Homo sapiens: one gene and its partners. The protein of the gene in region 2 interacts with the protein of the main gene of each other region in a biochemical or structural test. Each region holds a gene or a part of one and is shown on either strand. Other genes may lie near its edges.

What was found.
Region 1: the proteins of GTSF1 (region 2) and LRRK2 form a complex in vitro, tested with the Homo sapiens proteins (one large-scale study listed by BioGRID and IntAct).
Region 3: the proteins of GTSF1 (region 2) and MFHAS1 form a complex in vitro, tested with the Homo sapiens proteins (one large-scale study listed by BioGRID and IntAct).

What each region holds. Positions count from the first base shown.
Region 1 is NC_000012.12:40,318,921-40,322,575, reverse strand, and holds part of LRRK2 (leucine-rich repeat serine/threonine-protein kinase 2), read right to left. Parts: exon of another isoform or gene 2,601-3,655; intron 2,589-2,600; coding exon 2,401-2,588; intron 1,543-2,400; coding exon 1,388-1,542; intron 542-1,387; coding exon 395-541; intron 258-394; coding exon 66-257; intron 1-65. UniProt on the Homo sapiens protein: Serine/threonine-protein kinase which phosphorylates a broad range of proteins involved in multiple processes such as neuronal plasticity, innate immunity, autophagy, and vesicle trafficking.
Region 2 is NC_000012.12:54,460,000-54,463,654, forward strand, and holds part of GTSF1 (gametocyte-specific factor 1), read right to left. Parts: intron 3,299-3,655; coding exon 3,172-3,298; intron 2,727-3,171; coding exon 2,643-2,726; intron 2,174-2,642; coding exon 2,110-2,173; intron 473-2,109; coding exon 378-472; intron 1-377. UniProt on the Homo sapiens protein: Required for spermatogenesis and is involved in the suppression of retrotransposon transcription in male germ cells.
Region 3 is NC_000008.11:8,796,002-8,799,656, forward strand, and holds part of MFHAS1 (malignant fibrous histiocytoma-amplified sequence 1), read right to left. Parts: intron 1,491-3,655; coding exon 1,364-1,490; intron 1-1,363. UniProt on the Homo sapiens protein: Probable GTP-binding protein. Functions in innate immunity and more specifically the inflammatory response as a regulator of the Toll-like receptor TLR2 and TLR4 signaling pathways.

The DNA of each region.
Region 1 (3,655 bases), about 14 Mb from region 2:
TAAAAGTCACTTCATAAGTATTGAAGGATCACTTAAAAGCATTTGTAAGTTGTATCAAAACATACCTTCCTCTGCTTTCTTCATCAAGTCATCAAGTAAGATTTTTTGATGTTCTTCACCATCATTAAAACTATATAATGCCCATTTCTTCAACAGAGTTTCTCCTTCACCACAAATATCAATCTCCAGCAACCCAGGAAACCATTCTTCCATGAGAGAATCAATGTGGTCCACAACTTGGCCCAAAAGAATACAGCCTACATGATTCAAAACAGAGCTCAACACCTTGTCTAAACCTCATACTGTCGCAAAGCTTTAAGGTAAAGTTTTTTTTTTTTTTAAGTTTAAATTTCTTTAGTGTTGCAATTGAAAACATTCAAATTGATTTCCTTACCTTTTCTACAAGAAGGAACTGTAATTTTTAAGAAACTCTCTGGATGATTGTCTAAGACTTCAGATCCTACCAGACAATAAGCTTCAGGAGACCAATTTAAGTAAATGCCTTGTCGCCAATACATTCTGTTTGGGCGAAGTGCTCGTTCTAAAAAATGGAGCCATTAATTATTAACTGCTTCCTAAGTTAAAGGGAAAAAATCTACTGCACACAACACAAGTGATTGTAATACAGATCTATTCATTTTGAAATAAAGTATTGGGTTGTTACTGATATGAGTCCTCATCCATATCTATTAAATATTTTATCCACAACTTTACAATAAAAAGAGTTAAATCCCCTGCACATTAAGATCCATTTCAGGTTGATGCTGTTAAGCAGTTTAATATGCTCGACAGATGAAGAAAGAAAATCATAAATAAATCCTCATAATTTTTAAAAAGAAGTTTTTGATCATGCTAAACGCAAAACTTTCTGAACTTTTTAATGCAATGTAACTACCTATATGTTGATTAATTCCAATCAAGGTAAGGTTTATTTTGGAAACCAGTAACACCTGTGTAAAGCTAATTTTAATCCCCAAAATGATATTTTCCCTTTGGAGTACCAAAATGTCTCTATTTATTTTAGAAGAAAGAGTTAGCATTATAAACACCGGATTTGCTCTTTTTTTGTAAATGTCTTAGTGGCTGTGCAACAGAAAAGAGATAATTACAGTCCCTACAATGTAATCACAGTCAAGATCTGAGTGAGCACCTAAGGAATTTTCTTCCTGACAAATTAGATGAGGTTATATGTGCTTGTGTGTCTTTAGATTGCCTACTCCAAGGTTTTATGAGCTTATTTTCTAATTCTTCAGCTGCCTTCCAAACAAGTAAACTCTGAGAAAATGGCATATTACTTTTCATATGCCATCTCCCTAATTTCTCTAAAAATTAATAAGTCTAAATTAATAGTCTCTAAAAATCTAATAAGTCTTCATTAGATACTTACCTCTCCCTGAAAGCATGTAAGGTGAAATCTCAAGTAATCGATTGATTAATCTTGACCAAAATCCCATTGGAAAATAAGGCATTTCATATAGTCGGATGATAATTTCAGAGTTCTCACAATGGGGAAGCTCTATCACAGGCCTGTGGTCAGACAAACTAAAGGCAAAAGGACACTATGGTTATACAGCCTCACAAAACACCCAACCTTGTTGAGCAAATGATTTTACTGCTTAAAGTCAATGAAGGTAATCATTCCAAACAATTGTAATCTTTTTGTAACATTGTTTCACTACATATTTTTCCTACACCAAAAATTCAGTGGTCAATAACCAATTCAAATGCATGCTCAGATGTAGATGCATGAAATATTTTCGGTAATCCCTGTGCACTAATACATAAATTATTACAATTAGTTATGCATAGACAAATGTAATCTTATATAAATCCTGAAAAATACATGTCCTAGAAAAAAAGTGTATATTTATTTTTAAAATTGGCTGCATCCATCAATCAATGTAATTTGCACATTTCAACATCATATTACTTTATAAATTTCCCAGTTGCTTAGAGCAGTAGGAAAAATTTCCATAGTATAGGCTAAAACATAGGCATCCATTGTGATGCCATAAATGCTTTTAAAATTCTGTTGAAAACTCACTATCTTCTCAGAACTTGCTTAATAAACTCTCTCAGTGTTGTTTAAGAACACACACATACACAAACACAGACACACACACACATTAATCTCCACTATTTACCTTTCTTAAATAATTTCAACAGTGATAAGCCAACTAGTAACTATACACATAAAGTAAGTGATTTACTATATTGTTAAAGTGTCAGATGCAATGTTTTATTCCAAAATAAATGATACATGTCAGTAGGAGGTTTACACTAGAAGCAAAATATATTTATTTATTTAATACATCTATTATAGACTACAGTTAGTTTGACAATTAAAAGAATAGATAGTGAATTTCCATGTAGCAATTAATTTTTTAAGGTTTTCTTTACCTGCTTGGAACCAGCAAATATTCTTCTCCTATTGGCAAAGCAATCTGGAATTTTTCTAGGAGCTTAAAATACTGTGACATGTAGTTCTTTGGAAATTTCCTTTTTTTTGAAAGAAATTTTTCCACATCTCTACGCGAAATAATGCCCTTAGGGTGTTTTGGACAACCTTCCACTTTCACTGTCAAAATCTGAAAGATTCGAGTCATAAATAATCACTAAAATTTATTTTCTGAAATGTTGCAAATTTAAAGCATTTTATGTCTCTTTGCTCAGTGAAAGTAGTCAGAAAGATTTTAGTGTTTTCAAGTGCAACACAGTACCTAATTTCTCTAGCAACCATGTGGCCTAGAAGCCCAGAGGGGCATTCACTCTCAAAAAAAAAAAAAAAATTGTTAAATTAAGGGAGTTAATTCGGATAGGAAATCATTGAACTTCACTGAAACAATGAACATCAGTATTTCCCTAGCTACAATGGAAAGATCAATCCAATACCTCACATCTGTTTTGCAGTCTCATCAATAATATATTCCCAGGAAAATTATCTTCCAGACAGTTATCAATACAGGTTTGAAATAGAAATATTACTTCACATTTATATACTAGGAGAGGACTTCCATGAATAGGAAGACAGACTGTGTAGCAGAGTTTCATGATTCTCAAAGTAACTACTGCATTTTGATGGATTCTACTTGCAGTGTCTGGGTCAGTAGGTCTGGGTTGAGGCCTGAGAATCGGCTTTTTTAAAGAGCAACCCCGATGTTTCTAACACAGAGATCACACTTTGAGCTTTGATCCTTGTCATGGCAGTTAAAAATCAGTCAGAACCCAGATTCAAATCCAGGCTCTACTACTAGCTCTGTAACCTTGGGAAAGGTATTTGATTTCTTTACTGCACAGCTTTCTTCTCTATAAAATGAGATAATAAAAGTGACTGTCTTAGATTGCCCTGAGAATGAAATAACACATGTAAAGTACGCAAAGTACATATGACAAATTTTAGCATATTTATCTATATATTCCAATTTATTTTGCTTTGTCAAATTCACTTTAAAAAGAGGTTTGTATTTAATTTTCTTTGGGAGATCTATAATGTTTAAGGAATACTTAAACAGAAGCAAACATTATTTATGCTATCATGTAGTTGAGTGAAATACCAGGTTATAAAGTCCTTAGGCCCAAGGACTTGTCTTACCCATTTCTGTATTTCTATTTTGTATGTACAGTATTTATTGAATCAATGAATGCATGGTTGATT
Region 2 (3,655 bases):
ACAGGCGTGAGCCACCGCGCCCGGCCTGATATTATGCCTTGAAAGAAATCAGGGATCACTTCCTCCTAGCCCAAATCATTAACCTTTTTATTGGCTCCCAAATTTTCTCATGGTATTTGACGTCAGTGGTCACCCCATTTTGAAAATATTCTTTTGGCTTCTGTGATCTTATACTTTCCTGTTCATAATTTCTTGCTCCTAACCACGGTCAGTAGGGTGAACTGAGTAAGGTGCTTAGGGCATAACATTTAAGGAGGCACTCACTTTAAGGGTCATGGAAATGCAAGGTGTTCAGACTGAACACATCTGAATAATCAAGATCAACTGTATTTAGCACAATGAAAAGAGTAAAACTATTTTGTCTCTATTTCACTTACTGTTTTTCCATGGCAGAACATACGGCAGAGATTTGGGAACTCGCATGCCTGAAGCCAGGTTATTCTTATGTTCTGTAACTATGTTGCTCGCAGGGCTGCAAAAAGATGAATTTGGCTATGTCGGCAGATCAGTATCATTCAAGCAGGCACACGTAAGATAATCAAAATGTGTTTTTTGTAATTTGGGGAAAAACAACAACCTACATTCATCTGAAATGTAAACACATTTCCATCAAAACGTTCCGGCAATTAGAATGATTACCACTTACTTCTCTGGAAAGCTCCCTGTTCTGTATAGACATTAAGATGGGTCTAACCATTTTCATTTTCTAGAAATTGAGATAAACAGCAATGCCATCTACTGTTCAGCTGTATGACAGGCTCATCAACTCACTCAATAAACGTAAGAGATAAAATAAAGTGCTAAGGCAACCAAACCAAAAGCAGCAAATCTTCAACTGAGGTAAAATTAAAAGTTGTAGCCAACGGAATTCATTTTAAGTTTTTCTATCTTAGTGCACATAAAATAGTATACACTTAAAATTATTTACTGTTCTCAGTAGTTAAAAAGTAAAAATTTGACAAGCATTCTGTTTGGGGAAAAAAGTGAAGTCTAGCATCTTATTCCTTCATTTCCTAAACCAGAAATATTCTCATTTGGGTTTGAAACTTGATCTTCCAAGGTTTGAGTATTGGTGTTAATGAGAAATAGCTTCATTCATTTTTATTTTATTTTGGACAAGGACTCTTTCTGTCACCCAGGCTGGAGTGCAGTGGCATGATCATGGCTCACTGCAGCCTCGACCTCCTGGGCTTAAATGATCCTCTGGTCTCAACTTCCCAAGTAGCTGAGACTATAGGCATCCACCACCATGCCCAGCTTATTTTTTTTTTTTAATTTTTTTGTAGAGACAGGATCTTACTGTGTTACTCATGTTGATCTTGAACTCCTGGCCTCAGCGATCCTCCCACCTTGGCCTCCAGGTATGAGCTACTCTGTGCCTGGCCAGAAATCATCTAGTTTTCAATTAGAGCTGGGCATGAGCAACACTTTGGGAGGCAGAGGGGGGAGGATCACTTGAGGCCAGAAGTTTGAGACCAGCCTGGGCAAAAATAAAGAATTAGCTAGGTGTGGTGGTGGATCCCTATAGTTCTTGCTATTTGAGAGGCCCAGGGGGATCGCTTGAGCCCAGGAGGCAGAGCCTGCAGTGAGCCATGATCATGCCATTACACTCCAGCCTGGTTGACAGAGTCCCTGTCTCTAAAAAAATAAATCAGATACAAAATCAGTGGGAAGAAGAGATGCATATTCTTTCCTAATAGGTACTCTGGATTTTCCAATCTCAAATAAAGAATTTTTAAGACTGCTTTTTCCTATACACTAGTTACCTAAAGTAAAAATGATCCAAGTGGTATAGTGGGAGAATTTTTTCAAAGCATTAAAATAATGTAAACCTAGCAAAAAACATAACTAAGACACATGAAAGTCTGGGGCTACTGTTTCCCTTGCTAAACGATAATGTATTTTTGTATCCCTTATGATTGGCACAAAGCACATGACCTTTTTGAATCAAGGAATAAATATGAAAAAATGCCAAAACAATATCTAGACTAAACTACCATCAAGGAACATCGTTAAAGAAAGTGGTCAATTCATGCTCCGGTGGCTTCTCTTGGTAACAGAACACGCTGATTTTGGGAGACAATGCTGGGATAAGACTATTTCATTTACCTGTTGTTGTCAGAGTAGTGAGTTGTGCCCCAGACAAATGGGGTGCTGGTCTGCTCCCACAAATCTGTTAAAGGAAGCAAAACATAGTTTGTGGTACTACTAGATAAGACACCAGCAGTTCATGTTGGTTGAATTTATAAGATGGGAAATAATACACCTAAGTTTTGCAGAAGCAAGTAAAAATTGATCAAGTGTCCTGCCTAAGTGACACAGTAGCAAGAATTTAATTGAAGAATATAAACACAAGCAACATAAATAATAATAAACGTGCCTACTAACAATCAAACACAGATGGTACAACACAATTTATGGAAAAAAACAGATGTAAAGAAGTGCTTTTTCCAATCAAGAGGGATTGGCTGTTCCACGTGTCTGCACAGCGATACAAATGTGCTCGTTTTGGGGCCCAATAAAAATAATAAGGCATTCTGAACAACATGGTATGTTCATAAAAAAGGAAAATCTTCCTTCTGTCTTAAGCAAATGACTTGAGATTTAGACATTGTGAAGAAAAAGATGTAGAGGCAGCTCACCTTTATCCCAGTCTTCATCGCAAGGAGGGCACTGCCAAGTGCTCTCAGCCAGAGTCTCTTGTCTAAGGCTCCTGGTTTGGTTGACTGCAAGACAATAAAGATTGGATATAAGAGGGGGATATTGCCAAGTTATTGTGTTCAAAGGGGCTAGTAGCTTAAAAGGTTGCAAGGGTAGCCTGTTGGGTCTTTATTTCTGAAAAATGGATAGTATAAAAGCTAAAAGAGGGATCTTATCTCTTTGCTGACAGAAGAAAGAAAAGCAGAAACAAAAATGTTTACCATATTTATGGCAATAAAAGATTTATTTTTAGATGAATTATTAGTAAAATGAACCAGGCTGTTCAGGAGAGAAAACAGTATGACATGTACAATCTGACAACCTATTGCTGCCATGATACAAATCTCAAAGGTGGAAAAGTATTGTTCTTCTAAAACACTGAAAGCCAAAAATCAAGCTGACAATCTAGCATAATACAAATCTGAAGGAGCTACCCTCCAGTACTGAAATATTTTAGATACTAAGTCTTACCAACATCTTGCTCAATACAACTTCTGTCATCACAGCTTGAGATATGATGACTAATTTCAGCTCGAGGAACCTGGTGGCGAGCATTGAAGGGACAAGTAGCCAATTTGCTTGCAACATCAGGATGATTCTGTGGAACCAAAATTAAGGGATCTGTCAGTTCTCTGGATCTACTAAAGTCAACAGGGAGTAGCTAAGCCTTATTCTACAAATGCCTCCCCTAAAATTCCTCAATAAACTTCTGGCTTAACTATAACAAGTAAACTCAGAGTAAAAAACTAAGAGGGAATTATTTATTGTTTTTATAGACAATTACTTCAAAATCATCAAAACATAAGTCTTTTTGTTATGATTGTAGAGACTGACAACACAGATATTGTTAGCTAAACAATGAATTTAGGATTGGGTATTGGAACGACATCTTTCCCCCATTTATTTCTCAGAGTCACATGATTCAGGCAGCACAGCCCGTAATGAGAGAGCTCTC
Region 3 (3,655 bases), on a different chromosome or scaffold from region 2:
GAAGATCTGTGGCTGCTGCTTTTCAGGATTTGAAGTAACAGGCATTTCATCTCAGCTTAAAAGCGGCCTCTTTGGTTCTTAATACAAACAAAACAAAACGAAAAACACACATACATAAAACCCAAACCAACAGGATGAGTGTTATCTAGAATAGTAGTAACCCAATGTTCTATCTGAAAGTTACTTGGCATGTGTGCGTTCTCTGTCTTCAAGTCCATTTTGGGGCAAGGTGGTGGCAAACTGCACAGCCCTTGATTTTCAGGGACTGACTCCGCAATCAGAACCATGCAACAGAAAACGGCCTATTACTGACTTTCTGCAGGCTTTGCTCATGGAATGGGCCTGCGCTGGTTTTTGATGTGAGAGCCAACTTCATTCTGCAATGACAGAGTTAAGACTGCCCGTCAAAAAACTATTTTCTTTTGTAATCCCAGCACTTTGGGAGGCCAAGACGGGCGGATCCCGAGGTCAGGAGATCGAGATCATCCTGGCTAACAGGGTGAAACCCCGTCTCTACTAAAAATACAAAAAAATTAGCCGGGCGCGGTGGCGGGCGCCTGTAGTCCCAGCTACTCGGGAGGCTGAGGCAGGAGAATGGCCCGAACCCGGAAGGCGGAGCTTGCAGTGAGCCAAGATGGCGCCACTGCACTCCAGCCTGGGCGACAGAGCAAGACTCCGTCTCAAAACAAAAAAAAAAAAAAAGGCAAAAAAAGGCCGGACGTGGTGGCTCACGCCTGTAATCCCAGCACTTTGGGAGGCCAAGACGGGCGGATCCCGAGGTCAGGAGATCGAGATCATCCTGGCTAACAGGGTGAAACCCTGTCTCTACTAAAAATACAAAAAAATTAGCTGGGCATGGTGGTGGGCGCCTGTAGTCCCAGCTACTCGGGAGGCTGAGGCAGGAGAATGGGGTGAACCCGGGAGGCGGAGCTTGCAGTGAGCCGAGATCGCACCACTGCACTCCAGCCTGGGTGACAGAGCGAGACTCCATCTCAAAAAACAACAACAAAAAAAATGTTCTTTTTGGTTCCATATACCTGCAAATAAACTGAAAACCAATGAACTGTACACTTAGGTAAGTGAACTGTGGTATGTGAATGACATCTCAAAAAGGCTGTTAAAAAATGTTCTGACTTTATTAGCTAAAGTAAAAAAAAAAAAAAAAATCACAAAAAAGAGGAAATAAAAGTTCCTGTTTTGCTGCATAAATCATGATGCTGATGTCATCCAGAAGAATTATGTCTGTTCAGGAGGACTTTGCAAGGTTTGTGCAGATGCAGTTTAACCTGGATTTTTGTGGTCATATCTATGGAGCTGGGATCAGGAGCCAGGTCCCGGGGCCAGAGGGACTTTGAGAACTCACTTGGAACAGGGGCTGATCACAGTCGGCGTGGGTGGGTAAACCAAGGCAACATTTACTCGCTCGCTGCCGTTCTTGGGGCAAATGATCTCTGCCACTCCTTCCGGTCTGGGCTGACTCAGCAACTCCCCTGTAGGAGGAGAGAGAAAAACGTGTTAGGGAGATGTGCACTAAAAATGGGCTCATTTTACAAAGACAGCACTGCCCGGGGATGGGGGCAGGGGGAGAAGGGCAGAGGTGAAGCAACGAAGGATGTGAGAACAAATGTGCAACCAAGAACAGCAGAACTGCCTGGGCGCCGGCTCCAGCGCCTAAATCCTCCTCTGCGTCACCGTGGAGAAAATTTTCATGGTTATGGCAGGAAGGCCCACACTAGACAAAGACAGCATCTGTCACTGCTCTGCTCACCTTCCTTTTAACAGACTGACTCCAGGGATCTTTATCTAGATATCAACGACTGAGCCAGAGTCCCCAGAGCCCACCGAAGCAAGGGCTGCCAAGGAGGTGTTCATAATTAGGATTTGGGGCAGATGGGACTCAAGCAGACCACAGCAACCATTCAACAAAGCCCTATATAAATGATCTGGAAACACAGCAGACTAAAAGTGTTAAAAACACAAACAGCCTAAGATCAGCCCAGCCTCCTCTGGGCAAGGGGATTGCCCTGATAGGTATGTGTGAAGCAGATGCACGACACAACACTATCTAACGAGTCTAGCAAAAACACATAATTAACCTAATGGATCACCACAATACTTAAAGGAACGCTATTACTCTGCATGCCCTGGATGTAATCTCTCTTCAACTAGATCATTACATCTCTAAAAGCAGTGATGACTTCCATTCTCTCATCCATATACCCAGGGCACCCTGCCCTTTCTCAGAGAGTACTCAAGAAACAGCTCCTGGCTGCAGATGGGACACATTATTGTTCAAACTGCCCTACTTAAACCTAGGAACTAAATTTTTTGTTGTTGTTTTGGAGACAGGCTCTTGGTTTGTCACCCAGGCTGAAGTGCAGTGGCCTAATCACAGCTCTCTGCAGCCTCAATCTCCCAGGCTCAGGTGATCCTCCCACCTCAGACTCCCAAATAGCTGGGACCACAGGTATGCAGCACCACATCTGGCTAAATGTTAACCTTTTACTTTATTTTTGTAGAGACAGGAGTCTCGATATGTTTCCCAGGCTGGTCTCAAACTTCTGGCCTCAAGCAATCCTCCCACCTCAGCCTCCCAAAGTGCTGGGATTACAGGTGTGAGCCACCATGTCTGGCTTCTAGAAAGTCAATTAACCAAATCAAGGATGTGAAATGTACACCAACTGGGGAAAGACACTACTGCAATTACAACTTCAACTCTCTGCACCAACCACTTCTACTGCTGACTTGAAATTCTAGAGACTCCGGGCTGGGCGCGGTGGCTCACACCTGCAATCCTAGCAGTTTGGAAGGCTGAGGCAGGTGGATCACAAGGTCAGGAGTTCGAGACCAGCCTGGCCAATAAGGTGAAACTCCACATCTACTAAAAATACAAAAATCAGCTAGGCATTTGTGGCAGGTGCCTGTAGTCCCAGCTACCCAGGAGGCTGAGGCAGGTGAATCGCTTGAACCCGGAAGGCAGAGGTTCCAGTGAGCCCAGATTGCGCCACTGCACTCCAGCCTGGGCGACAGAGTGAGAATCTGTCTCAACAACAACAAAAAAAAAAAAAGAAAAGAAATTCTAGAGACTCCAAAGAAGAGCAGTCCCCCCTTATCCCTCAGACATGCGTTCCAAGACCCCAGCGGATGCATGAAACCGAGGACAGTACCGAAGACTATACAGACTATGTTTTTGCCTATAAGTAGATACCTATGATAAAGTTTAATTTATAAATTAGGCACAGTAAGAAATTTACAACAATAAATAGGACAATGATAATATACTGTATTAATAATTAAACTTTTATGAATATGGTCTCTCAAAAACTATTATTATGCTGCATTCACATGTATTTGGACCACAGTTGATTGCAGGTAACTGAAATCACAGAAAGTGAAACCATGGATAAGGGGACCACTGTATCTGCTGACGTATAATGATATGAAATTCCTTTGCTTCAAAGTACTGTATTTCTGGCTGGGACAGTGGTTCATGCCTCTAATCCCAGCACTTTGCGAGGCAAAGACGGGTGGATCGCTTGAGCCCAGGAGTTCAAGATCAGCCTGGCCAACATGGTAAAACCCAGTCTCTACTAGAAATACAAAAATCAGCCAGGCATGTTGGCGGGCACCTGTAATCTCAGGTATTCGGGAGGCT